Homo sapiens: one gene and its partners. The protein of the gene in region 2 interacts with the protein of the main gene of each other region in a pairwise test. Each region holds a gene or a part of one and is shown on either strand. Other genes may lie near its edges.

What was found.
Region 1: the proteins of SHTN1 (region 2) and FABP3 interact in binary tests that used the Homo sapiens proteins (3 or more experiments, as listed by UniProt).
Region 3: the proteins of SHTN1 (region 2) and EXOC6B interact in binary tests that used the Homo sapiens proteins (3 or more experiments, as listed by UniProt).
Region 4: the proteins of SHTN1 (region 2) and BBOX1 interact in binary tests that used the Homo sapiens proteins (3 or more experiments, as listed by UniProt).

The regions. Positions count from the first base shown.
Region 1 is NC_000001.11:31,370,061-31,377,419, forward strand, and holds the start of FABP3 (fatty acid-binding protein, heart), read right to left. Parts: upstream 3,017-7,359; 5' UTR 2,955-3,016; coding exon 2,882-2,954; intron 1-2,881. UniProt on the Homo sapiens protein: FABPs are thought to play a role in the intracellular transport of long-chain fatty acids and their acyl-CoA esters.
Region 2 is NC_000010.11:116,883,169-116,890,192, forward strand, and holds part of SHTN1 (shootin-1), read right to left. Parts: intron 3,399-7,024; coding exon 3,176-3,398; 3' UTR 1-3,175. UniProt on the Homo sapiens protein: Involved in the generation of internal asymmetric signals required for neuronal polarization and neurite outgrowth.
Region 3 is NC_000002.12:72,179,010-72,186,033, forward strand, and holds part of EXOC6B (exocyst complex component 6B), read right to left. Parts: intron 5,179-7,024; coding exon 5,066-5,178; intron 3,897-5,065; coding exon of another isoform or gene 3,881-3,896; exon of another isoform or gene 3,844-3,880; intron 453-3,843; coding exon 326-452; 3' UTR 1-325. UniProt on the Homo sapiens protein: Component of the exocyst complex involved in the docking of exocytic vesicles with fusion sites on the plasma membrane.
Region 4 is NC_000011.10:27,035,984-27,043,821, forward strand, and holds the start of BBOX1 (gamma-butyrobetaine dioxygenase), read left to right. Parts: upstream 1-4,831; 5' UTR 4,832-5,045; intron 5,046-5,232; 5' UTR 5,233-5,495; intron 5,496-5,816; exon of another isoform or gene 5,817-6,077; intron 6,078-7,838. UniProt on the Homo sapiens protein: Catalyzes the formation of L-carnitine from gamma-butyrobetaine.

The DNA of each region.
Region 1 (7,359 bases), on a different chromosome or scaffold from region 2:
GCCACTGCACTCCAGCCTAGCCAACAGAGTGAGATTCCACCTCAAAAAAAAAAAAAAAGCTACTATTAAGTACTATGAGCTTTTTGTGTAGTAAGAACTGTACATGTTATCTCATTTAGTTCTTCCTGTTCTTCTGAAGACTGTTTCCACGTTACAGATACAAAAACAGAGGTAAAGCCCAGGGTCACAAATCTGAGATTGAAGCCCAGAATTGTCTGAGTCCAGAGCTTGCTTAAGTGCTCAGCTATACTACCTCCCAAGGCTGGAGCATAAGGCTGCCTTCCAGGGCACCTGAAAAGCTCTCAAAGCCTTAGGAATAAGGCTGAGGAAAGAAGAGAAACATAGACTTTCCCTTCCAAAGCCTTAGGCATAGGAGTTTTCCAACTTTGGAAGTTTTTACCCTGAAACTAAGAAGTGTTAGTGCTCTTGTCCCTTATACATGGCAACCCATCATTTTCAAAGCCTGTTATCTATGATCTAGGAGTTAGGTACAAAGGAAGTATTTGTCCTATTGTGCAGATTCAGGAGGAGCCTAAAGCGGTAGCAACAATGAGTTAGACTCAAACCCGTCTCCTGACTCCCAGTCTAAGGCTTTACAGAGACTCTCTTCCTGACCCAAGCATGGCTTCCTTGGGTACTGGGCAAAGTCCTAAGTGTCCTGCAACCAAGTAAAGAACAAAGAACTAATCATGACTGCCCCCTCTCCCCCCAGCAGCTTAACATTGAACTGTCTTCCAAGGCAAAGGTGAGGCAGGAGGCAGCCCAGTGTAGTGAGGTGGTGTGTGTAAAGTCTCCAAATGTACCTGGCTACATAGTGCTTGCTGGAAGCTAGGTACTCTGCACATGCCCTACATGGGTTGTTTTACTTAATGCTTGTAACAGCCTCGAAGCGTAGATTATCCCCAGTTTACAATGAAGAGTGCGAAGTGTCTTGTCGAAATTCAAAGAGAATAAACTACTGACATAGATTTGAACCTCGGCTCCAAAACTGTTGACTATTTTCACTGGGCGATTCTGTCCAGCACATACTCAATCCAGGCCAGCAGTTGTGCCTGTGGTCACTGGTACTAGACGGGACCTCTTTGCCCCTTGAGAGCCCTAGGTCTACAGCAGGAGGGGCAGGGGCTGCCTCTGCTGTTATGCTGTCAGCCCACCCTTGCTTGGCCAGTGAGGAACTTGGCATTGCCCCTTGGTATCAGGATGAGTCAGGCCAATCACACTCCCTTGCACAGAGCAGGACCTTGTCACGGCACTGGGAGCTCTGTTCACTTAGGATCTACCCAGAGGTATGGAGTGTTTGAAAAGGAAACCACTGCGGGATGAGTGAGGGTCTGAACCAAGAGAAACTAAGAATATTGAGCTGACAGAATTTAGGAGACTCAGGGAGATCTGGGTTCTACTTAGAAATGAAGCCAGCACTACTTACTGAGAGCTGAGGAGGGTATTTTCCCAGGCTTTCCATTCCTACGATGAGAATGCTGGCTGCCTTAACATAAGCTGCTGAAAGATAACAGGACTTCAGGGAGACCAGCCCGCTGACCCAACTCGGGGCAGAATAAGGGAACAAGAATGGTAAAGTTGTTGCAGCTCAATTCAAGACTCAGCTCTGGCCCAGCTTTGGAAGGAGGAACTAAATCTGGGCATTCCAACTTCCCAATAGCTGCTGGGCTGTGTTCGTGGGGGCTGGGGGCTGCTCCTCTAAGAATGACTGCCTGCCTAGAATTACTGGGCATAGCGCCCAAGATAGGGTAGAGGCCGTTGAGAGCTTTGACCTCTCCATCTAAGCCCAAAGCAGTAGAAGAAGGGCTGAGGTCAATCATTAGCTAAGCAGTTTCTACTTTTCTTCCCACTCGCAGGGCCTGTAGGGTAGTGGGAAGAGCTCTGGGTTACAGATCTAGAAACCTTAGATTTTCATATTGGCTCTGCTGTGGAATTGTTATAATACATTTCTACTCTCCTGGTTTCAGTTTCCCTGTTGAACTAGATGGTATGGGAATCTCCAAGTTCCTCACCTGTGAGATTCTTTGAATCCTGATTCTTCTCCATCCCAACACCACAGCAGTTCTCCACATCCTCCTAAACCAGTGATCCTCCCTCCCAGGTCTTGACCTTGCCTTGGGACCCTCTACTGCACATCAGAAGTCCAATGGCTTTCTCTGCCTACCCCTCGCACAGATAGGTGAGCCTTGGGTTGCAGGAAAGGCCCAGCTGATCATGGGCCTCTTGCCCCACCCTACCACGAGGCTCACAGACAGTGATGAAGGCCTGGATACATAGACTGCAGGACAAGGTCAGACTGGCTGGTGAGAAAGGGCATTCTCCAGCAAGAATTCTCTTCCCTAACCAAGCAGAGATGGGGATTGCTGCTTACTGCAGGTTCCTGTCTTACGTCCTTCTCATATCTGATTCACTGATCCACAGTTTTTTCCCCACTAATCTTTTTCCTCCTAGGTATTTCCTACTTGTTTACATCATTGTACACTCCCTGGCTGCCCCATTCCCTTTCTGGGTTCAGTCTCCTCCAATTTCTAAACTACCCATGCCCCTGTTCTTTTTCTCCCCTGGCTACACTCCCTTTCCTGTGATCAGTGTTCTTTATCCAAACCCTCCTCCTACCTCCAAATCACATATCCCTCTTCCTGGAAAGAGCCTCCCACACAGCTGCCTCCTTCCACCACCTCCCTACCGTGGTCTCTAACCAGATTTGGACCACCAAAGCCCCCTCTGAACAGGCCCCACCTGCTCTAGGCCAGGCTGCCATCTCCGCGCTCCCCTATTCCCCAGTCTTAACCAGGAGGGATGCGGCAGGAGTGCTGCGTGGGGCTAGGCACGCCACCAGCCAGTCCCCAAGCCAACATCCTGAGCCCCGCGGCTTGCTCACCGAGTGACTTCATGTAGTCATCGAAATTCTTGCTGTCCACTAGCTTCCAGGTGCCCAGGAAAGCGTCCACCATAGTGATGCTGGGCTAGGCTGAGAGAAGCTACAAGAGAGCAGGCGTGCAAGGGCTCCGACGGCGGCTCCCTGCCCGGGCTGCCGCTTTAAATAGCCCTCGCATCACATGAGGAGACGTGGCCCACGCCCCCGGCTCCCGAAATAGGAAGCCCCAGGCTAGGGCTCACCCAGGAGGGGCTGGTGCGCCCATCCCCCAACCCACCGAGGTGGGTGGGGACCAGCCAGTGGCGCCCTGCTAGCCTGCGTCAGCGCCAGTGCCTGGCCCCCGAGTCCCTACCCCAGGCTGGTAGGACCTTCTCCCTTTCCTGGCCTCTAGGCACTCTGGAATCTGAGAAGGAAGCAGCCAACACCAGCCCGAGAGCTAGGGCGCATGCCATGGTGGATATCTTCCCGTCCCCCAGTCCCTCTTTGAGCTTAGCGTCAGAGCAGAGATGAGACTAGAAAAGCAAAACGCCCTTGGGCTGGTGCCCACGCCGGGGAAAGCTCTGGTTGACTTCTGGCACGGGCATCTGTCCTCGTTTTACAAGTGAGGAGTCCGAGGCTCACAGGGGAACTGACAAGGTCTCAAGAAATAGGAGGGGGTGAATGGAGCTCAGATTGCAAGCTTAGTCTAGCGGGCTTCAGAGCTCGCGCTCTCCCTTCACTCTCACTGCCTGGTGGCGGAGACAGTCACCAGCGGCTCGGTCTGCGGCTGAGCTGACCTTGTCCTCTGCCTGTTTTGAGCAAAAGCCTGACCCTTCGCGCCCCGCCCGCCTCACACGTGCTTGCCCCTCCCTGCGGAATGTCTCCTGCTGGCCCTCCTCCGTCCCCACCCCACCCCACCATCTAGCTCCCCACCCGCCCCTGCAAGTGCTCTGGGCTTTTCCGGTTTCTTCGCACAGCTCCGAGCTTTAGCTCAGGTCGTTCCCAGCTCCCCTCCTGCAGAAATTCTGCCAATTCGGTCAGCTCTTCAAGGCCCATGGCTGCCTTCCCCACCTGCCGCCCTTTCTTTGGCCTGTGCACACTAGCAAGCCGCCTGCACTTTTGGGTAATTTGCTGCCTCCTTTCGAGAGCCTGTTGTGCGGTGGTTTGTCACTGTATAGTTTACTAAGCACTTTCAGTAAAAATAAGACCTGCCTTGTCTTGCTATTTATTGCATGCTGAGGGCTTTGGGTGTATTGTTTCATTGAACTTTTTATTTTATTATTATTTTTTAGAGACAAAGTCTCTCGCTGTGTCTCCCAGGCTGGAGTACTGTGACGCCATCATAGCTCACTGCAGCCTCAAACTCCGGGGCTCAGGGGATCCTCCTACCTTAGCCTCCCCAGCAGCTGGGACTATAGGCACACGCCACCACACCTGGCCTCATTGGACTTTTAAAGCAAAATCCATGAAGTAGGTGTTACTGTATTATTTTCTCTTTTTAAAAAGGTGAACAAGTTGAAGCTCTGAGGAGCTCACTCATTAATTCAGCAGTTAATAAAGCACCTACTTTGTGCCAGGCCCTGCTTTGGAGAGAGACAACAGGGAACAAGACACACATTCACCTCTGGGCAGCCAGACATAAAACTAGCGTGGTGCCTCTAAAGGGAGTCCTGTCCTGTCCTGACCTGAGGGCCCAATGTAGACTTCTCAAAGGAAGTGAGGTATAAATGAATTTCTGAGGGATGGCAGGAGGCCCTGCACACCAAGGAGTAGTGCCGAACTGAATTTCAGCCAGCAGCAGCCTGTCCAGGGTGGGCCTGCAGGAGCCAACACAGGAGCCCAGAGGCCTGCCACGTGCGTAGAGTATGGCAGGCCCTCCTTCCTGGGACTCTGTTTCTCCATGTGCAAACCCTGCCTCCCTTCCCTGGACTGTTCTGAGAACAAGGCCAGGGAGGAAGAGCCCTCTCCCCACCCTAAGATCTTGATTCCTTTGGACGGTCCAGTTGCCAGAAGACTCAGAGGCTCATTTCTGCCAAAGCTATAGGGACAGGCTTCAGGGCTGGGCATGGAGCCTTGGTGATCTCACTGTTGGAACAGGTGCCAGGAGAGGAGGAGGGGGAAAAGATGATTTCTGACTCAAGGTCGCAGCCCTCACACATAGGGCCTCCTCTCAAGGACTGTGTGGCCAGGAACTAGAACTGACTCCTTATGTGGCCCTTGTAATGCAATGATGGAGAGCTGGGGCTGGGCTAATGGCTGCTGGCAGATCTGCGTTCTGATCTGAATTTTGTTGGGTACTAGCTGTGTGGCCTTGGGCAATTCACTTAAGCCATTCTGAGTCTCCATTTTTTTTTTTTTTTTTTTGAGAAGGAGTCTCGTTGCCCAGGCTGAAGTGCAGTGGTGTGATCTTGGCTCACTGCAACCTCCACCTCCTGGGTTCAAGCAATTCTCCTGCCTCAGCCTCCCAAGTAGCTGGGATTACAGGCAACTGCCACCACATCTGGATAATTTTTGTATTTTTAGTAGAGACGGGGTTTCGCCATGTTGGCCAGGCTGGTCTTAAACTCCTGACCTCAGGTGATCTGCCCACCTGGACCTCCTAAAGTTCTGGGATTACAGGCATGAGCCACCACGCCAGCTTCAGTTTCATCTTTAAAATGAAGGGATTTTTTTTTGGAGATGGAGTCTTGCACTCTGTCACCCAGGCTGGAGTGCAATGGTGTTATCTCAGCTCACTGCAACCTCTGCCTCCCAGGTTCAAGTGATTCTCCTGCCTCAGCCTCCCAGGTTCAAGTGATTCTCCTGCCTCAGCCTCCCAAGTAGCTGGGACTATAGGCGCGGGCCACCGCGCCAGGCTAATTTTTATATTTTTAGTAGAGACGGGGTTTCACCATATTGGCCAGGCTGGCCTTGAACTCCTGACCTCAAGTGATCCGCCTGCCTTGGCCTCCCAAAGTGCTGGGATTACAGGCATGAGCCACCACGCCTGGCCTATTTATTTATTTGGAGAGAGTCTCACTCTGTCACTCAGGCTGGAGTGCAGTGGCATGATCTCAGCTCATGGCATTCTTGACCTCCCAGACTCAAGGGATCCTCCCACCTCAGCCTCCTGAGTAGTTAGGACTACAGGCGCATGGCACCACGCCTGGCTAATTTTTTGTGCATTTTTTTGGTAGAGACAGGGTTTTGCCGTGTTGCCCAGGCTGGTGTTGGACTCCTGGCCTCAAGCAATCTGCTTGCCTCGGCTTCCAAAGTGCTGAGACTACAGGTGTGAGCCACGACACCTGGCCCGAGATAATACATTTAAATGCTAAGCATGGTTGACTTACGAAAGTTCACTGCTGCTGCTCCTCCTGCTGCTATTGTTATTGTCTCCAGGGATAGTGCAGACACCTAAGACCTAGTCTGAGCTCTGCCACTACCTACTGAGTTAGTTACCTGAGGCAGATTGCTTTGCTTCTTTAATCCTCAGTTTTATTATTTCTGGGACAGGATTAGAAAGGGCTTCAACTGAAAAAGGGGCTATAGAGGTTTTTCAGAATGGGTTGGGGTGGGGTCACTGCCAGAAAATCCATTTGCTCCCTCTCTTGGGCCTGTCCAAATTGAGCAGCACGGGGCTTTGAGGAGCTCTACTCGACAAACCTCAGACCAACTACCCTCACTGCCCTTCCCTCACCTCGCCATGGTGCTCAGACCTGGGTCACCGAGGTTAACCCATAAGCCACACCCCATCTCCTTTCCTCCTGGTTTACACCCTTCTCCCTTCTAAGTATGTACAGTTCTCTCCTCATCCCTCTGATCTACCTGCATCCTCTTCCTCTGTTATGCTGACTACATTTGGGGAAGAATGTGAGCCCTGTCCCTTTTTGTACTCCTCTGTCTTGCCCTTGGCAGATCCAGATGTGGATATAACATCTGGCAGGCAGCAAGACCAGCGCCTGCCAAGAACAGCATCTCCCCAGCCCTCATCCTATGGTGAGGTCACTGTTCTATGTTTCCACGGCAACCACAGGCTGGGAAGATGGAGAAGAGGAGAGATGAGTAACCAGAAGCCAGCCAATGAGATGAGCTGCAGCACCGGATGATCCATGGGGCCATGGGGAGCGGGGACAAGGGAGGCCTGCTCAGCATGTTCAGCTGTTTCCTGGACCCTCCCTGCCATCTGGATGCCTCCACTAGAGAATGTGCTACTAGCACCAGGAAAGAGCTAGAGGCTGAAGAAGCTGAGTAGAAGCTCTGCTGACCCAAGAACATGGCCCTCCTTTTTTGCCTCTTCAGGGTCTAAGTCTATGGTTGCTGACTACCCCCGCCCCATCCCACCCCTAATATCTGCAACTGGGAACTTTTCCCATTTGCTGGGAATGATGGTGGGGCTCTTTCTGCCTCTGCCTGCCATAGAACCAGCAAGTCTTAGACATCCCTTCTTTTTATGCCCTTGGTCCATGGGGTCTTTGTTACCAGAAAGGGGTCCCAATCCAGACCCCAAGAGAGAGTTCTTGCAT
Region 2 (7,024 bases):
CTATCCTCGAGACTGCACTCACCAATGGATAATTAGCATTTTAATTTAAATTTCTTAGGGTGCTAGGCACTCTTTCTACTTATACTTTCTCTCTCTTGTGTTATATAACATTTAATATGAAATATATTTATATAACTGTATATATAATATTATCTGTGAAAGAAATGAAAGAAACAGTCACATACCAAATTAAAATGACTGTGGGATAGGGACATGTTAGTGCTTGGAAGAGAAACTTCAAACCACTCCAATCCTTATGCAGGGACTGCTTGATGAGTCTTTGAAGGTCAGTGATAATGACAGATGGTTATCCATTCTCGACAACTTACTGGTATATAAGCTAATGTTGTTCCACAACGAGTGTAACTGAACAGGTAGAGTATGCATTTAGAAAAATAATCCAGACTTGAAGGCTGTGATACAGACTATCATTTACTGAACACACAACCAAAAACTGGTCTGGAAAGACAATTAAAAATAATTGTTACCTGTACTACTCCATTTCCAGCAGTTTACCATTAACAAAGAAGGTAAGGAAGGAGCAATTATTGGTGAGTAGTTAGAGCCAAAGCATCCATCCTCCGTACTCAGGGCAAACTATGCTGGGTGCTAATAGCCCTGTTGATGCCTGCCAGTCAGAACTTCCATGGGACTGTTCAGCTGCTGAAACTGCTGTGGGTGAGGACTTTGTTTGAGACCAGCTCACATACAAAAGGGTGCAAGTGCTTTAATTAAAATCTTATTCTTCCAGAAAAAAAAAGAGACATTTTCTTTTTCTTTAATAGCAATGGCACAAAGTACCTCTATCTCTGTTCCTCACTCGGGCTATAAAATGCATCAACATTCGTTTTTCTTAAAGAAAAAAAATCCTCTATAGCGCACAAGACTTAATTTATCTTTCCCAAACAGAAGGAAGCATAAATAACCTTTTAGAGAAATCAAAAACATAAAGATGCAGTCTTTTCCAACTTAAAATTGTGTAAGCAGGACGTATGTAAGTTTTGTGTGTGCAATAGCTATGAACATACCTTGCAGATATAAGCACGGTTCTCCTATGTCTTCCTATTTGGGATCCCTTGCTTTGGTTGACAGTGTCACCCCAGCCAGGGGCAAAACCCCCTCAAAACCAAAGTGAAAAGGGAAAAACTGTAGGCAGAAAAAGGTGAGTGAATATCTTCCATCAAATACCTTCATGTCAAATTAATTTAAAATGCTTTGTAATCACAGTGAGAGAAAGTAAGCAGCTTAAAAAAGGCAGGAATACTTTCAAAATACCTGTTACTAATTGTTCCCTAGTCCAGCTAACACATTTCACCCAAAGGGCAACTTCTTACTCTAGAAAGGAGGGTATTTTGATAACCATATTATTCTGTGATGGTGTGATGAAATATGGAAAGACAGTGTACATATTTTTATATTCCTAAATGTGTGTGAGTTGCATGCTGGCAGACAGATCACAGATGCAAGAAGGAAGACAGCACAAAGAAACATGAAAGAAAACTCAATAAACCATCTTAGGGACTATTAAAAATTACTAAAGTTGTCAAATCATATACAATTTTCTATTAAAGAATGTCAAGCTTGGGGAACTAAACCAGAAACGTTAATAATAACCACAACTGACCCTTAATGGGAAACTATTGGTGCCTTTTTAATAAGTTGTGGTGAGGAGAGTTCAAATTACAGCATAACAGAATTCGTTTCGTGAATTAATGCAGTCTGTAGTAAGCATATCATATAGCAGTATTATCCAGTTAAAGAAAGATACAGTTGAAAAACATTACGTTTTAATTCTCCATGAGTAAAGTGATAAGTAACTATAAAATCATTATTGGGAGAACATGGAAACAGTCAAGCATAACGAACTTACAGAAAGATAATTATCTCCAAATTTAGGAAGTACATGTACCTGCCTACCCACCTCTTCAAGCCTATGCTTACCACACGTGCAAAAATACAATACAATACAACTACTGCAATTATTACTATCATTTTCTTTTGCCCTTAGGTGAAAAACACCTGACAGCTACATGCTGAGCCATGCTAACAAAACTAAACCTTTCACTTTCTTTAATAGTAAAATTACCATTACTGAATCATTGTCATAAAAAGTGCATTCAAGTACATTACCACTTATTTTAAATAAACACCAATTTTGAAACAATCAACTTTGAAAAGCTGCATAAGTTTTTTTTTTAATCCCTGATTACATTTCTATTTATTCACTGTGGTAGCCTGAAACATTGTATTTTTAGAGACTAACTACTGCTTAATTTCTTTTTTAAAAAAAACAACAACAAACCTGTGTAATATAGAACAGCAGTGAAGCAAGAAAAATGTGTGCTTGTCACTTATCTTCACCATACTGTACATAAGAACTCTGATAAAATATGGTACTTGTGCCACATTAGTATTTGGGAAAACATAATTAACTCATAGCACAGAGCACATGGTTTACCAACTTACTACTGTAAAATTCAAGGTTTGGACTTTCACCTCAGTTCTGTATTCAGGCTACCAGAGCATCCCCACGGAGGTCCTCGGGAGGCTTTGGACACAATCAATAGCATGTATTTTTCATCCAATAGTTAACAATGTGTGTAATTAACACTGACTATGGGACTACGAGTTTGATGCCAGCTCCTGAGTTTTCAGTTTATCTCAGTCTACTGTAGAAAATAACTTGTATGCCACAGTACCCAACAATTTCCATGCTGCTGCAGTTTCTCCATCAAGAGGATCAGACCCAAAACAGAAGCTTCTTTGGGGGCTTTTAAAATCACATTGGGTTGATCAGTTTTGTTTATCCGATTATATACAAGCACCTCAAACTTTCAGCATTCCATTTGATGAGTGGTATGCACATTTCCTAAAAAGGTATCAACATCTGAATTTTTTTGTAACCTTCTAAAAGAAGTCATACTTAATACAGTAACTAGGAAAAAAACCTCATCTTTATAAAGATCAAAAAACCAAAACCTACTAGGAATGTGTGTTTTGCTAAACAGCTTACTTATGTTTATAGTTGCTACTTACAAAAGTGACACCAGAAAAGAACCTGTATTCTGAATACAGTGACCAGAGCAGAATGTCTACAGCCCTTGCCAATATAACAACACTAATCATGTGCTTATTGAAAAGGACTTCCAAACATGTCAGGCTTCTGGTTTATGGATCAGCAGTTGGAGCTGTCTGTCTCTCTCACGTTTTCAATGCTGTCTTCTTTGTTTTCTGGTTGAATTTCGCCTTCATCCTCCTTGTGTTGAGTTGGATCTTTTTCAGCAACCTGGTCTTTGGTTTGGGGTTCATGTGTAGAAACAGGATCTAAAACTACAACTGGTTCGGCTTGTTTTTCACCGTCAATGTATTTTTTCCTGCATCCAATGCTACTGGGAGGCCTATGAGATGAAGAGTTAGACAAAAAAAGTAAAAAGCAGAGAGAGAAAATAGTTGTCTCTGATATTCTGGATTCAGACTAACATAAAACCCAAAATGTTCTAAGTCTAATCAACATGCATATAGTAGTCTTTGAGATGCCAGCCATTTAAAAGAAAAAATGAAGCTATCAGATTACACAGCTGATACTAGGAGCACAAGGCCAGAAGAAAGAAGGCAGAGAAAGAGCGATTAACTACAGAAGTGTTAAAAAGCCAAATGCACCTACCTGCTTAATTGCATTCTCTTCTCAGGAAGCGTAAAGCTCATGGACAAACTGTGAACTTCTCACAGCCTGCTGCCCAGACCCCCACCCGCCCTCACTTAGCTGGATGGAGCCAGTTAACTCCCTTCCCTCCTGTGTGTCCCTGGGTATGGCTGGTTGCAGGGTAGTGCTGAGGAGCCTGCAGGGACAAGGGGAGTAATCACCCCTCATCACTGATGGACAGGTGAGAGGCATGCTGACTGCTGCCATTACCAACTAGAGGAGACCTGGTCAGACTTCAGGAGGGGGTGGTGGTAGGACCAAGGGCGGAGAGAGAGCCAGAGTAGAAGCTAAAATGCTAAGTTACCATTAATGTTTCTAAAAGGAGAATCAGGTTTCTTGAGAAATTTCTTATGGAATTTCAGAGGCAGTTTTCCACAGACTCCTTCTCTCGTCTCTTCTGCTGCAAGAAGCTATGGCTTCTCAGGCTGAATGGGTGAGGATTTCATTATGGGAACAGATATCTCTGAAACACCCGAAGGTTCAGGCTGCTGAGCTGCGGCCTGAAGGTGGAGGCAGCTGCAGCAGGCAGGGCTGGGGCTTTCGGACTTTTCTGGTCTTTTTGGAAAATGCTAGGATCAGGCCTTTTTGTCCCTGAGAACTGGCTGTTAACCATGACCCGGCACACCACCATCCCACCTCTTGGTGTTCCGCCAGGTGCCAGTGAGCTGCCAGCCAGTGCCTGCCCACTGCTCTACCAGCCCCTCACCAGGAGTTGGTTTCTACTATTCTCTGACCCCTTCAGCAGGTCAGAGCTGGCAGGAGACACTCTTTTACCACCTAATACCTCTCCCTTGTTGGACTTACCACAATTGTTTCCTGTCTGTCTCTTCCAATAGCATGTAAACATCCACGAGGCAGGGACTGTTTAGCTTTACTCACAATTCTATCCCCAGCACCTAGCACAGATGCATTTGTGGACTAAACGAATGGGCAAATACTAATAAACTGAAGGGTTCAGAATGAAGGGGGAGAAATCAAGGTTTGGGTGTGAGTAGGTCTGGATGTCTCTCTTGCAACAAAAACAACAGAACAAATGATCAACTACTGAGCAAAAGTAACCTGCATGACCCGGTCACGGGCACAAAACCTCAAACCCAAAGACCACACTGCTTTTTTCACTTTCTGACCAGTACTGTAAGATCTGTCCAAATGTTTAAAAACCACTCCCTCTGGCTACTGGGTTATATTACCTATGTGTGGCTCGGTCATCATCCTAAGTGACAAACACTATGTCTTCCTTGGAGGTGGTAAAAACAAAAATAATCAGGAGCCTGGGGACAGGCTGTGCTGTAGTGAGGACAGATTCCTTTATTTTTGCCTGATTATGGCACCATGACATTGTCCATCTACCTTGGCCAAGGAACTACTTCTCCAGACATCTGCCGCTATGCTTTGGGAATCAGAATGGGGTGTAGTTTCTCCAGTGGTACCTGTTTTGACTCTCTCTGACCCACACAATATTTAAAAGCCTGTGATGGGAGAAGCAGAACAACTATGAGTAATATTAAGGATTGATCAGAGGAATCAGACCTTAGGGAATGAGAGGCACTAGTCATGCCGTCTGTGTAAATCTGCTGCTTCTGCGTCTGACACTGGGCCTGCAGTCAGCTGTTCTGACAGTTGGGAGGGAAGGCGGCTGTAAAGTGACAGAGACTGGGGACAAACTAGAGCTGCACCTATCTCTCTCTCACAAGCACCAATCTTGATGATGCAAGACAATCTGCAGAATAAGCAGGAGCCTTCCCCAAGGAGCTGCACATGCACCTGCCCCAGGATTTGGAAAAGCTGGAGGAGGAGATGTGGGGAGCTGGAGAAACTGTGGGCCAGTCACTGCCACATGCCAGTTAGGTGAGTCAGCACATCAGGAATGTCATGCACAAGCTATAACAGAGCCTGCCCTACACGGACCTTCCGAGGGTTAAAAAAAATTTTTTTAAGACAACTACTTCACTTCCACCTTCTAAATCTCATGCAGATTTATCTGTCGGCAACTCTAAACTGAAAACAAACAGGTGAGGAGATTCTAGGAAATAAAGCTGCAGCCCAGCTAAGGTTCCAGGGAAAGTCCCATCCAAGTCTGCAGATTGAGTCACCAGTACGAAGGTTTCACCATCTTGGGCCTGGGCCCACTCTTATGTAAGCCAGTCAAACTGCTTTCAGCATGCAAAGGAGGTAGTATTTCTCTCATTCTAGGTGAGCAACTTCCATCAACCCATACTAACCTTCATCACTTCTGTAGAACTACCATGGATGTTTCCATGCTCGTGTGTGTCTGTAGGTGAAGGGGTGGTGCACAGATCCTAGAAAAAGCTTTCTTCATCAGCTCAGGGCTAAAAATTTCCAGGAAGTGCTCTCTGGGCTCCACAGCAGCAATACATGGATGTTGATTGAACTGAAAACTCATAAACCTAGTATTGTCAGGCTGAAATTGTCCTGGAATTGTCTCAGTCCAAAGAACGATCTCCCTGTCCTGAAGCAAGCTTCTTGACTGCAGATTAATCTATTATTAAGTCACTTATAGGCTACAATTTGAGAACCCCTTTGTTATCACTGAACTAGGCGCAGTGGGCATTTTCTGAATCTAGGCATGGAGGGAGAGTGACTGGTTTCTCAAGGATAATGACCACTGCCTTAGAATCCCAGTGGAAGGTGGAAAGGGACTAGGGCAATCGTCTAGTCTGACCTGTCCTTTTACAGATGAGGATGATGGGGCATGAAGAGGGGAAGGAACTGGCCCGAAACCACACAGCTCATCAGTGGCAGAGTCAGAACAAGAGTCAGAAGCTCCTGTCTCCCTGTTTCTGCCTTTTCCATGACAGCATGCTGTTTCTCAAAGGCATCTTCTCCTAGAAACAGGAGGCTACAGGCTAGTTTTTGGCATGTTTACTGATTTCATTCTTTCCGAATCCGTTTCCATCTCCATCTTCCAGATCTGTAAATAAAGTCTATCCCTTCAAGCTATCCCTTAGTTTTAATTTTTCCCCTGTGGTTTGTAGCTCCTCCTGGCTTGACATCACTAGGTCCACTCTTGGCTCCCACGGGCAGCTGCCCAAGACTCCTTCTGGAATGAGAGTCCTTTCTTTCTCCTAGGCCTCATTCTACCTTCATTCCTATCGTATGGGAAGAGCCACAGAGCCGCATCAGTGATGGTGCCAAGAACCCAAGTTCTCACTCTAGTAGTCATGGTGGCAGGTTCTAGAGGGTTAAATATGAAGCTTCTCCCCAAGGTAGAAATCCCAGAAGCTCAAATGCAACACTTCAATGGGAATTGTAATATACTGTCATTCTGTTCAATTTTTTTTTCTACTTTAATGCAACCTC
Region 3 (7,024 bases), on a different chromosome or scaffold from region 2:
CCTAAGCCCCAGACCTAAGCTTTAGAGCCATGGATGAAAGGTGGTTCATCACTGTGGAATTGATGATACCACCATCTCTAAGATAACACAGATAGTGTAGTAATAACTTCCCCTGAGTCCCAGCCTAGCAACATCTCATGTACTTGCTTATTCTTGTGCCTCTTTTACTATAGGGAAATGTTATGTGAATACTGCACAGGGGTTAATAAAAAAATACATATGCTCTCTTTGAAGAAGAATGCACAAATGCAGGGTCAGCTGGGGCTGGACCCCAGACTGACACAGAGGCTGCAGCAGGTCGCCTCTGTGGGTCCGGGGTCACCCTTCATGAGTGGTGGCTGCTGATGAGTCCTCGGAGCTGCTTGGCCACGGTGTCAATGAGTTTCTGCTTGTCTCGCTCATTTTTCCGAAACTGTGCAAACATGTTGTTCTTGCGGCTAGTATCCTTCATCCTAAACAGAGAAGGAAAGAAAGAGGGCAACATGTTTGAGGAAACAATGGTGGAAGGAGAACCTGCAGGAAGCAGGATGGCAATGCATCTTAACCACTACCCAGAGTAATGAGAGAGTCCAGAATATCTCCACTGTCAGGCCCACACTCACCTACTCATCAGGAAGCTGGCATTCTGGCACCTATAGCCCTCCCAACTTCAGTCACCTTTGGAAACTGGTCAAGACCCAGTTTTGGAGGGGTCAATCTCCCTACCCCTTATACCTGCTCCACCTAATTCATTCTCTTCTCTCAGCAGGTATGTACCTGCTGTAGGTGTCTGGGACAGGGAACAGCTCTGCTGGTCAATAAGCCCTTATAGAATGTCTAGGATCCACTCATTACCTCATGAACCTACTAAATCCTGATAGGACCTTTGAGATAATATTTGAAAGGTAAAGCAGGAAAAGTGTTCTTAACTAGCAATTCCAACAGAACATGAATAACTGAAGGCCACTGTATATTTCTAAACCTCACTCTAGCTGGCTACTCTATCCTATCCCCAACAAAACTAAGGGCTTGACTGACCTTTTTCCTTTCGTCTCAGGGTAAAGGCACATAGGTGGTGTGGTGGCTAAGAGAGTAGAGTGCTGAGGAAAGCATGGGCCAAATGGCTGGGCCATCCTCTCACTCCATAAACCAGAGCTTTTTACATGAGAAGCCTTTGAGTTCTCAATGGCTGTCTGTACCCCTGGACCTTTGACCTTTGGGTCATGCTAAAGCTTCATAGATGGCATATTCCTAGAACACAAACCATGGGTAATTCTGGCCAGTGGTTCTTTCAGACAGACAGCCCTAACTGGGAAACATGGACAAGAAAGTCAAGACTAGGCTGAGATGGTCACAGAACCCCCAAGTCTGACTAAGCAACTGTGACAGAATTCAGGAATCTGCTATTCCCTGCAGAGGGCCCACAACCTCTGACATCTATTGGTGGCCACTAACTCTTGTCCTAGCTGCTGCACACCAGACCCATATCCCACAGCTAGTTCCAGTGTTAGACAATTGAGAACATGCCAAGACAGATTTCTCTCTGGGATAGGGGCAGGCCAGTCTTCACCAGAGTTGGGCCAGCCCTCTGACTTCACTGCTCCCTGGGCTGTATGGAGACAGGCTAGAAGAGAGGAGGGAAGGAACATGGCACCGGGCTATAAATTGCCCCCAGGCTATTTCCCAGGGGACTTTGGGCCAATCCTGCACCATTTTCTCCCCCACTGTGGGTGGCCCTTTGCAGAGGAGCAGATTAGAGGCCAGTGAGTCAAAAAGCCAGAGATTCCCACAGGGGCATTTATGTTTGGTATATATGATATAAATTTACAATATATATATTCCATAAGGGCATTATATATGGCAAAAAGGTTCTAATGAGCACCACAGCTGTATGGCTCTGGCTAACAGTGATAGCCACAAACTAATTAAGAATTCTTTCGGCTGGGCGCGGTAGCTCACGCCTGTAATCCCAGCACTTTGGGAGGCCGAGGCGGGTGGATCATGAGGTCAGGAGATCAAGACCATCCTGACTAACACGGTGAAACCCCATCTCTACTAAAAATCCAGAAAGTAGGCCGGGTGTGGTGGCAGGTGCCTGTAGTCCCAGCTATTCGAGAGGCTGAGGCAGGAGAATGGTGTGAACCCAGGAGGCGGAGCTTGCAGTGAGCCAAGATCACACCACTGCACTCCAGTCTGGGTGGCAGAGCGAGACTCCGTCTCAAAAAAAAAAAAAAGAATTATCTCACTAATCTAAGCTCAAGAGCCTTCAGGCTGGAATTACTCATCAAGCAAACTCAGAACATTGAATATAAGGTACGACCACCCACATGTGGAGGCCTGTGCTTGGAAGGGAAGAAGAAGGGGAAGTGACTGCGCTAGTTGAAGAGAAAGCACGAGGGTCCTTAAGACTCTGATAATTACTGTATTTGTTCCCTAACACACTAGTTGCACAATTACATTTGTAGAACTGGCCTAGTTTTAGATAGTTCCAAAGAAAGATTCCCTTTCCTCCGCTGAGTATACAATATATCTAAACATTAACAACAACAGAAAACAAACAAAAAGAAATGAAGAAAACCACTTCCTATATTCATAGGACATTTAGTTTAATATCCTACATTATCATTAATTTCATGACTCCTGGAAGCAGCTGAGAGACAGGCAGCCCGCTGGCTTTTGGCTCCCACAGGGAAGCTCCTGTAATTATCTAGGAGAAAGAGGGTAGTCTTTGGCCACAAAGGCTAGAATTTCTTGGCCATTAAGACCTGGAGTTGGAACTAGGCACTGTAAAGATAAACTCAAGTACCCTGAGGGCTAGTGGTGGCCTGCTGGTTTCTACTCAGGAATGCTCCAAAAACAAAAGTCAGCCCTCCCACCTTCCATCCCATTCTGAAAGCCCAATATCCTGTTCTACTTTATTAACAGCTATGGCCACCTCTCAATGATGCAGGGGCCACTTCTTTTCCCTCAATGTCTTTAGCAGGTCTTTTGTCTTTCTGTTTCGCCCTGCTAAGAAGGGCCAGGTTGAAAAGGAGAGTCAAGATCTGATGGTAGAACTGGCTGTGGAAAAGCAGGAATAGGTCAGGTAAAGGGGTCAATTCCTATGAGGCTGGGAGATACGGATTGTAGTGATCTGGATGCCCTTTGCTCTGCTGTGTTTGGAAGGAAGCTTTTAAACTCTTCTGATTGCTAGGGCTAAGCACATAGTTTCTTTACTGGCCAACGCTCCAGAATGGTAGGGAGAGGCTAATTATTTTAGACTATTGTTGAGCCATAGGGAGTGGATAAGCCAGTATTTCCTAGATCCAGAGATTCCTGGGAACGGAGGAGTAAAGGACTGCTGAGAGATGTAAATAACTGAAGGGAATCCCAGAGCCCATTTGAAGGACACATATGACCATTAAATATGACCATTTAAGCACCACCTCAAAGGTCAAAATGTTCCCTTCTTTCAGCTTGGCACCAAGAACTGTGGGATTAAGCCTTGCCTCTAATAAAGGGTCTTCTATAAGAGATGCAGGTTCTAGATTTTAAAGCCACCAAGAGGTAGGGGAGGCTGCTGAGGAGCTCCCTTCGGTCAGGGCTTTATTTCAGGCCCCACACTAGCAAGAGTATTGAGTGTGCCAAGAAGCTGAATGGGAACAACCCTTTACCTGGCACAATGGGAGAAAATCCCTGCCGCCACTCCCAGCCCCAAAGGAATTAGTAAGCCAAGGGTCACTGTAAGGGCCAAGGATAGAGAAGGCAGCCAGCCAGTTGGCACCAGGCTGGTTTAGTAGATTAGTATGTCAGGGCGGGGACAACTCAGAGGCTAGGGATTTTAGTGTAGTCATTAGTGTCAATGAGGAAACCAGAAGGACTTGCCTCAAAGTGATGGAAAAGGCCCAAGTGAATAATATACTTACTCTCTAGATATCCTAGGGCGGAAGGTCAGTGGGAGAGAGAACCATGGGAAACAAAGTTAAAATGGAAACATCAATCTCTGACGTGGTCAGGAGAAAACTGCAGTCTGAGTTTTTAGTCTCTTGGCTCCAAATACATACACCTGCATCATGCTCTTGCCTACCCTTCATCTCTTCCCCTTTTCTCCCCCTTTCATATTACATAGTAAGAAGGATAGACTTTGACCTCTCCTTCTGCTTAAGGCTCCACTCTGACTTCCTGGACTCTGAGCCTTGTCTTCCTAGGATTTGAGACATGGTTGACTGGCCATATATGTAGACTTCCTACACTGCCTAGATGCAGGGCATTCTTCCAAGTAGCTGGGGCTTAACTAGTTTCTCAGATTTCAAGAGAAACCTGCCTTTTTATATGGGTCTTGGTCTCTGACCTGCCAGCTCTCTAATAGATTAGCAAAGCCAGAGCCAGGCTGTAATACATAGCATTTCCCAGCTTCTGGGTGACATATTTGTTAGCCCTGAGATTTCCTGGAGCTGCCTAACTTACTTTCAGTGGTAGCACCTCTGCTTCAGAGAGGCTACAGCTCTGTGGCAGGGAACCCTCTGCAGGCTAGTGACTGCTTAAGGCAAGAATTAGACACCTTCTCCAACACAGCTTTGTTGGGATAGTCAGCACAATAAAGCTCAGTCTGGCAGGGGGTGGGAGCTGGGAACAGATGAAGGTTTCAATAATTCTAAATAATTTCCAGGGATTCTCTACTAGGAACCAGAGAAACCATCTGTTCTGTGGAGTTGCACTATCCATCATCATACCCCAGGTGACTAGGGCAGCCTCATTCTGTTCACCAGGCTGGCCTGAGCCCCAAACCGAGCCATTTTTTTTTCTCTTGCCATATCTAGTAAGAGACGCTAGTAAGAGACCCATTAAACTAGAAGGTAATGTCAGAATCCAATTCTGATCCATACTTGGCCTGGCTTGTTGGGGGCTCAGGAATTAATAAGCCACAGGAGGAAGACTGGCCTGCCAAGTCCAGTGACTGAGATTGCTGACAGCACCCAGGGCCTATGGCAACTTCCAGAACAAGGCTATCTTTCAAGGTATTGGCAGTGGCAAAATTATCTTCTACGCCAACCCCCAATCCCTGTCTCCCCACCTCCCAACACAGACCATTGGACAAGGTACTCACTTCTCAAGCAGGGTCAGAGCAGTCACTGGGTTTACCCGGAGGTACTTGCAGTTGGGCTGACCATAGTCAGCAAGGTAGGTTGACCAATCCCACTGGATGAAAAGATCCAAAAGCTGTAAAATATCCAAACCCCACCCCAGGGATTAGTCAGACAGACAAGACAAACCAAGATTCCAGAAACTTCATCATCCTTCACTACCAGCTAATAAATTGGATATATAAAAATTAAAATATAATAAGAAAAAGAACAGCTGCAGACTATTCTTTCAACCAAGAAAATAAGTGAGTAAACATTAGATGGCAGACTTATCTCTGCCATAAGCAGTATGGAAACATTGCTAAGACTATATGCCAGCAGTCAGCTCTCAGAGGCAACCCTGTAAAGAAACTAACACGGGACTGAATCAAATATGATAATAATATCATAATAATTATTCACTTACTCATTTAATAAATACTTATCAAATGCCTTCAACATGCCAAGAACCATTCTCAGTATTCAACAAAGAACAAATAAAGGTGGATGTAGTCCAGTGCCACATATACAATTGTTTGAACTTCAAGGTTAAAAGGTCTGGGTTCAAGTATCAGTTCTGTGACTTGCTGTACTGACTTAGCCCAAGTGACTTAGGTAATACAGACATATACACATGCCTATATACAAATAGGACACACAGATAACACAGAAACACTGAAACAAGGCATAAATGGATCATGTAGCATTTATAAGAGGCAATATGTGTTACGTCTATGCAGACACAGGCTAAGAAGATGAAATCAGGGCCATAGTAGATTAGCCCATGATTGAGGACACAGAGTCTAGCTAGAATTGGGTTATGAGTGTTAAAGAGAAGTGCCAAGAGCTAGATGTGTGAAAAGACAATGAGAGCTTTCTGAGGGTGAGCTGAGTTCTGACACGGGAGATTTTGACTGAGAGAAACTAAACTTTTGTCAAAGGCTTTCCTTCCCAGTCAGTTTTAGCCTCAGACATCACACTAACAAATATTCAAAAATTGTAACTAAGTAAAACAAACAAATAAAAGCTTCTAGAAGGGGCACAGTCCCAGACTCATATCACTGCATAGAGGGAGAACCCTCACAGTACTTTTTGACTCAAGACATTCTCCATTTCTCCCTTTCCAGGAGATAGGTAAGTGCTGATGAGGACAAGTAGATGGCTGGTTGTGCAGAACAAAGGCAGAGGGCCAAGAGTGCAGTCATATCCAATGCCAGAGCCTGGGCTCTAGGCACACCTTCCTCCATGTCTGTCTTCACTGTGCAGCTGGGCAAACAGGCAGTATGGGCCTTGCCCTGTTTGGCCAAGTCTCCACTTCATCCAGTTTCTTAGAATAGCTGTTATGAACTTCCTGAAGCAGGATGGGAATTGGCTGAAGTCCCAAACCTAAAACTTAGAAAAGTCCCTATACCCTCAGCCAAGAAAGGGATTTTAGAGATGAGAGAAGGAGTGGGGGAGAGACAGGCACACTGGTTGGTCTGGGCCAGGATGGTCCCAAACGGCCCCTCAGGCCATTTTCAGGTCATGCCTATTTTCATTAGCAAGTTAAAAGGCTTCTACCACTTCCTTCTGTTGACCCAAGGCCTCAGAGAGTTATCCTTTAGAAGAGAATTTCCCTTGACTTTCTACTCTAGTATCAGTATTTCTTTCTTTTTTTTTTTTTTAATTATACTTTAAGTTCTAGGGTACATGTGCACAACGTGCAGGTTTGTTACATATGTATACATGTGCCATGTTGGTGTGCTGCACCCATTAACTCGTCATTTACATTATGTATATCTCCTAATGCTATCCCTCCCCCTCCCCCCAACCCCACGACAGGCCCCGGTGTGTGATGTTCCCCTTCCTGTGTCCATGTGTTCTCATTGTTCAATTCCCACCTATGAGTGAGAACATGAGGTGTTTGGTTTTTGTCCTTGCGATAGATAGTTTGCTGAGAATGA
Region 4 (7,838 bases), on a different chromosome or scaffold from region 2:
CAGAAAGAGAAGAAGTCAAACTATCCTTTTTGCAGACAACATAATCTTATATCTAGAAAACTTCATAGTCTCAGCCCAAAAGCTCTTTAAGCTGATAAATAACTTCAGCAAAATCTCAGGATAAAAATAATCAGTATACCAAAATCACTAGCACTCCTATACATCAACAACAGTCAAGCTGAGAGCCAAATCAGAAACTCGATTCTATTCACAATTGCCACAAAAAGAAAAAAATACCTATGAATACAGCTAAAAGATATCTGCAAGGAGAACTACAAAACACTGCTCAAAGAAATCAGAGATGAAACAAATGAAAAAACATTCCATGCTCATGAAGAAAAACAATAAATGTCATTAAGATAGCCATAATGTCCAAAGCAATTAATAGATTCAGTGCTGTGCCTATCAAACTATTAATGGCATTCTTCACAGAACTATAGAAAATACTTTAAAATTCATATGAACCAAAAAACAGCCCTAACAGCCACGAATATCCTAAGCAAGAAGAATTGAGGAGAAGGAACTCCCTCTTCTCCAAAGCTGGAGGCATCATGCTACACAACTTTAAACTATACTATAGGGCAGCAGTAACCAAAACAGCATGGTACCAGTACAAAAACAGACAAATAGACCAGTGGAACAGAATAAAAGCCCAGAAATAAAGTGGTACACCTACAACTAGCTGATCTTCAACAAAGCTGACAAAAATAAGCAATAGGAAAAGGATTCCCTATTCAATAAATGGTGCTGGGATAACTAGCTAGCCATAAGCAGAAGATTGGAAACAATAGGAAAAGGTCTCCCTATTCAATAAATAGTGCTGGGATAACTAGCTAGTCATAAGCACAAGATTGAAAATGGATGCCTTCTTTACACCTTATACAAAAATTAACTCAAGATTAAAGACAAAAATTTAAAACTCAAGACTATAAAAACCCTGGAAGACAACCTAGGCAATACCATTCTGAACATAGGAATGGGCAAAGATTTCATGCTGAAGATGCCAAAAGCAATTACAACGAAAGCAAAAATTACAAATGGGATCTAATTAAACTAAAAAGCTTCTGGACAGCAATAGAAACTATTAACAGAGTAAACAGACAACCTATACAAATGAGAGAAAATATTTGCAAACTATGCATCTGACAAAGGTCTAATACCCAGCTTCCATAAGAAAACTTAAGCAAATTTATAAGAAAAAGCAAACTACATTAAAAAGTAGGCAAATGACATGAACACTTTTCATAAGAAGACATACATGCAGCCAAAAAGCATATGAAAAAAAGCTCAACATCACTGATCATTAGAGAAATGCAAATCAAAACCACAATGAGATATCATTTCACATCCAGTCAGAATGGCTATTGTTAAAAAGTTAAAAAAAAAAAAAAAACAGATGCTGGTGAGGTTACGGAGAAAAAGGAATGCTTATGTACTGTTGGTGGGAGTGTAAATTAGTTCAACCATAGTGCAAAACAGTTTGGTGATTCCTTAAAGACCTCAAAACAGAAATGCCATTCAACTCAGCAATCTCATTACTGAGTATATACCCAAAGGAATAATTCTATCATAAAGACAAATGCAAGCATATGTTCATTGCAGCACTATTCACATAGAAAAGACATGGAATCAACCGAAATGCCCATCAATGGTAGACTGGATAAAGAAAATGTGATACATATACACCATGGGATACTATGCAGCCATAAAAAAGGATGAGATCATATTCTTTGCAGGGACATGGCTGGAGCTGGAGGCCATTACCCTTAGCAAACTGATACAGGATAGAAAACCGAATATTGCATGTTCTCACTTATAAATGAGGGTTAAAAGATGAGAACACATGGATACACAGAAGAGAACAACAGGCACTGCATCCTATTGCAAGGTAGAGAATGGGAGGAGAGAGGGGATCAGGAAAAATAACTAATGGGTATTAGATCTAATACCTGAGTAACAAAATAATCTGTACAACAAACCCCCATGACATGAGTTTACCTATATAACAAAGCTGCATCTGTAACCTTGAACTTAAAGTAAAAAAAATTAAGGTATAGTTGGCAGGTAAAAATTATATACATTTATGGTGTACAACTTGATGTTTTAATGTATGTATATACTGTGAAATCATGAAATCAAGCTAATTAACATATCCATCACCTCATATACTTATCATTCTATGTTGTGAGGACATTTACTATCTAGCCTCTTAGCCATTTTCAAGTATATGAGATATTATTACTAACTGTAGCACAGTAGGTCTCCTGAACTTATTAATCCTATATGACTAAATTTTTGTACCTTTTGGCCATCATCTAGCCACTCCCCTGTCCTCACTCTCATGCCCTGACAACCACCATACTACTCTATGCTTCTATGAGTTTGACTTTTTTAGTTGCCACTTCTAAGTGAAATCATGCAGTGCTCATATTTCTGTGCCTGCCTTAATTCACTTAGTACGTGTCTTGCAAGCTCATCCATGTTGTCACAAATGATAAGATTTCCTTCTTTTTCAGGGCTGAATAGAATTCCATTACATACACACAAACACACACACACACACACACAGAGACACACACATAATATATTTTCTTTATCCATTCATCGATCGATGAGCCCAGGTTGATTCCCCTTATTGATTATTGTGAACAATGCTGTAATGACATTGGTCTAGGCAGTGGTTTTTTGTATATGACCCCAAACACAGGCAACAAAAGTACAAATAAATGAGGTGGCATCAAAACAAAAAGCTTTTGCACAACCAAAGCAACAGTCAACAGGGTAAAAAGATAATCTATGGAATGGGAAAAAATATTTGTAAACTATCCATCTGACAAGGAGTATCCAAAATATATAAGAAACACTCAACAGCAAACAACTCAATAGAAAAAAAATCTGATTAAAAAATAGACAAAGTATCTGAATAGACATTTCTCAAAAGAAGACATACAAATGTCCAACAGATATATAAAAAAAAATGGTCAAATCACTAATCATCATGGAAATGTAAATTAAAACGCAAACTACAATGAGAAACTACCTTACACTGTTGGAATGGCTTTCATCAAAAAGACAACAGATGAGTATTGAAGAGAATGTAGAGAAAAAGGAATCTTTGTATACTAATATGGTTTGGCTCTGTGTCCCCACCCAAATCTCATCTCAAATTGTAATCCCCATAATCCCCACATGTCAAGGGAAGGATCTGGTGGTGGGTGATTGGATCATGGGAGTGGTTTCCCCCATACTGTTCTTGTCATAGTGAGTGAGTTCTCACGAGATGTGATGCTTTTATAAGGGGCTCTTCCTTCATTCATTTGCTCTCTCTTGCCTGCCACCATGTAAGATGTGCCTTTGCTTCTCTCTTGCCTTCTTCCATGATTGTAAGTTTCCTGAGGCCTCCCCAGACATGCAGAACGATGAGTCAGTAAACTTGATAAATTACCCAGTCAGGTATGTCTTTATAGCAGTGTGAGAATAGAATAATACATACACTGTTGCTGGAAATGTAAATTGGTACAACCGTTATGGAAAACAGTATGGTGGTTCCTCAGAAAATTGAAAATAGAGCTCTCATATAATCCTGCAATCCTACCTCTGGATATATATCCAGAGGATATAGAATAAGTATGTCAAAGAGATAGCTGCACTCCCATGTTCATTTAAGAAGCTTCTTACAGTGGAGAGCAGAGTTTTGATTATTTACCTGTTTCTGAGAATCAATTCTTTATGTGCAAGTCTTTAAACTTTATTAACAGATTTACTTGTCGGTTTATTTATTGTTTGTTCTATTTAATCATTCCATTAGAAACTATTTATATCTGGCACATTCTTGTCAGCAACTTTCTTAAAGCTGAAACAGAATTTACCTAATTTATTCCAGTAATTGTTACTAAAGTACAAAGTGTAAAGGAAAAATTCATTGTGTATATTTCTGTGATGTCATGAATTATTAAAATATAATTATCTGATTGCTTTTGGCATACTTATAACTTCAGTTACCGTGGGTTTAAGATGCTGGTCACATTTATGACGGCACCCACATATACACACCCTCCTCTCATACATGGAAAACAAAACCTGCTGTTGTTTTCACTGGCCAGTGGGTGTCAGTAATTTGACCTGGAGACTTGGGGGAAGAAAGGAGGAAAGTGGAAAAGAGGTTCCTTTCTTCAGATGCAGGGAAACAGTTTAAATTTTATTGTTAAAGGATCTGAAAAAACATCGTTTAGGGAGGGGATGCTGACATTCTGGAAGGGGAGATTTCCCATAAAGGAGGCCACCAGACAGTTGGGCTGCATTTTCTCTCTGTGTGGCTACCTCTTGTTCTTTTTTGACTGAGTCTCACTCACAGCCCTGCGAATCCTTCGGGCAAGAAGCAACAAGTTGCAGGCTGCTTCTACATCTGCCTAGGAAGAGGGTGTTAGGTGGGAGGAGGGCAGATGACTCAAGCGTCTCTCTCCTGGACCTTAGTTTCCACCTGTAGACTTTCTTTTAATGTAATCTAGACTCTGTTAGGACCTAGGACCTGAGACCAGTCCAACAGGGTCTCCCCCACACTGGGCACTCTCCAAGAGTATGCCTGGCAGTCAGGCTCTGAATGCTGGCATGCTGCCTATTCTGGCCTTTCCCTTTTGTTGCCCTAAGGGCTGTGTGTTGTGAATCAAATCACTGGGCAACCAAGTACCTTCAAAAACAGCCCCAAGCTCTCTGGAAACTACTTCCTATTCCAGCCAAAATTGCAGAGAAAGGAGGGCATCAAGCTTAGGGGACCAATCCCTGTCTTTCTACCAGTCCCTGATAACTACTCAAGCTCCCTTTAAAGAGGCTCATATTGGAATACTCTGTTGACAAGTAGATACCACTTCACCTCTGCTAGGGTGAGCGCTGGTAGCTCCTCCCTGTTAAATGCCCATCTCAATGCCTCTGCCCTAAGTGAGTTGTGCAATAAATGAGCTGTCACTCTGAACAGGTGGGAAAGAAGTGAACTGCTTGTTCACTTGCTGCTGTTGCCACTGCTGGTACAGAAATAGAAGGTAAGACAGGTGAGAACTGCTTTTCCTTCTATCAAGAAAGATTCCAAACTGAGGCAATGCTTTGCATTGAGTCCTGGGGTTTTGTGGTTTTGGGAACCAACAGTACTCAAAGTATTTTCTCTTGCTAACTGCTTCCCCTCTAGGCCATAAAGCCTCTTTTCTTTCTTTTTTTTTTTTTTTTTTAAAAAAAACACAGCACAAAAAAACAAAGACAAAAAACCTCCAAGCTCCCTTCAGTAGTTGCTACACCTTCAGATTGAGACATCCTTCCTCATTTACAAACCTCAGCTGTGTCTGGGGGCAGGGCCACAGTGAAACTGCCAGGAGCAAAAAGGCTTCCAAGAAAAAGTACCACATCAGATTGGAAACTGGGGACAGATCATTCCTGGGATGTGACGGGCACCAGAATGCTCCCTCTCCAAAGGATCTAAGGACCAAAGCTGACAGTTTCTTTACTTGGTAAGTTTTGGGTGGTTTGCTGTGTAAAGCATATCTGAGAACAGGTATGATTGAGCTCATCTTCCTTTTCTCCTTATTGCAAGGGTTTGTGAATTCAAGTCTGTGGACTGAGGTGGTGGGGAGCATCCAATTAGAACTCCATTCACATGTAGCTCACAGTCATGTGGGCTGTGCTGGGGATGGTCCATCAAGCATTTAGAATAGGCTTGGTTTTGGAATGCAGTGGATCTGATTGCTTCTTGGCAGCTTCTCTTTCCCAATTATGTTTGGCTTAGTCTGATAGTCAAATTACTTTATAATCCCTAAGCTGATCCAGAAAGTAAACAGAAGAGACAGAGAGAACGCTGTCTAAAAAGAGACTGGGGATGGGGCAAGGAGGATTCTGGTTGGATTTTCAAAATGTTCCCTGAATAATCCACAACCCATCCCAAAGAATGGTGACTGCATATGATACCCTAGCTCTTTGTTAAGCTCAAAAAGCTGACTATAACATGCCTCTTTAAAATGCTGGCCAATTAAAGCCACTATGCACATCTTCAATTGTTTTGTTCCCTTAACGAAGCTCAAGAAGGTATATTACAGGTATGGATTTGATTAAAAACGTAAGGTTTCTCATAATGAATATATGTTCTGGTTTAAATAATTTAGAAATTTTCCTAAAATCTAAACCCAGTACTTTGCATTACATCAGAAAACAAAGCCTTGATAATTTGATTTCCAATCTGAAAATGGTGATTCCACTAAAGTGAAGCTAAAGTTTTCCTTTGTATAATTTACAAATGAAGTGTTTGCATGAAATTTAATGCCTTAAGCAAGACAGGCAGAATTGTGAACCTATTTTAGAGAATGCACTGGTTTTTCTAATGGCATTATTTTTGTTGTTATTGTTGCTGAGATGGGGTCTTGCTCTGTCATCCAGGCTGGAATGCAGTGATGCAATCACAGCCCACTGTAATCTCAAACTCTTGGGTTCAAGCGATTCTCCTGTCTTAACCTCCCAAGTAACTCAGAGTATGTGTATGCACCACCATGCCTGCCTAATTTTCTTTTGTAGATATGGGGGTCTCACTATATTGTCCAGGCTGGTCTCAAATTCCTGGCCTCAAACAATCCTTCTGCTCCGGCCTCCCAAAGTGCTGGGATTACAGGCCACTGTACCTGGCTTCTAATTGCTTTATAGAATTCATTATTCACATGAGAATATATTCACAAATTGTTAAGTATCTCAGCCACTTATTAAACCAAGTTTAAAAATAATAATAATAACCATTTTATAATTTTAAAAAGATTTCAAGTTGAAGAACCTTAGGTAGCAGGTGTCTTGAGTAGAGTATGTATGTACTCAAATGATGTCAAACTGCAGGCACTACAAATATTGTCTGGTCAACCTCCACCTTACCAAGTAAAAATTAATTGATTTTGTTATTTAAAGGTTAAAATATAAAATAATAACAATGTAGTTAAGCCTTCATGGTGTAATGTCTAGAAAACTTCTTGCCCTTTCTCTCCAAAGCTGAAATGCCAGATGGTGAGGTTAATTAACACACAACAATCTTGAGATTTAGCTACTAATTTTTTATTTTTATTTATTTATTTTTTTTTTGAGACGGAGTCTCACTCTGTCGCCCAGGCTGGAGTGCAGTGGCGCGATCTCGGCTCACTGCAAGCTCCGCCTCCCGGGTTCACGCCATTCTCCTGCCTCAGCCTCCTGAGTAGCTGGGACTACAGGCGCCCGCCACCACGCCCGGCTAACTTTTTGTATTTTTAGTAGAGACGGGGTTTCACCGTGTTAGCCAAGGTGGTCTCGATTTCCTGACCTCGTGATCCACCCACCTCAGCCTCCCAAAGTGCTGGGATTACAGGCATGAGCCACCACACCCTGTCCTAATTTTTTTTAAGTTATACTTTTAAGTGCTGGGGTACATGTGCAGAATGTGCACGTTTGGGGTACATGTGCAGAATGTGCAGGTTTGGGGTACACGTGCAGAATGTGCAGGTATACACATGCCATGGTGGTTTGCTGCACCTATCAACGCGTCATCTACATTGAATACCCTTTATTTCTTTCTCTTGACTAATTGCCCTAGCATTTCTCCTAATGGTATCCCTCCCCTAGCCCCCTACCCCGCCACAGGCCCTGGTATGTGATGTTCCCCTCCCTGTGTCCATGTGTTCTCATTGTTCAAGTCCCACTTATGAGTGAGAACATGCAGTATTTGGTCTTCTGTTCTTGTGATAGTTTGCTGAGAATGATGGCTTCCAGCTTCCTCCATGTCCCTGCGGAGGACATGAACTCATCCTTTTTTATGGCTGCATAGTATTCCATGGTGTATATATGCCACA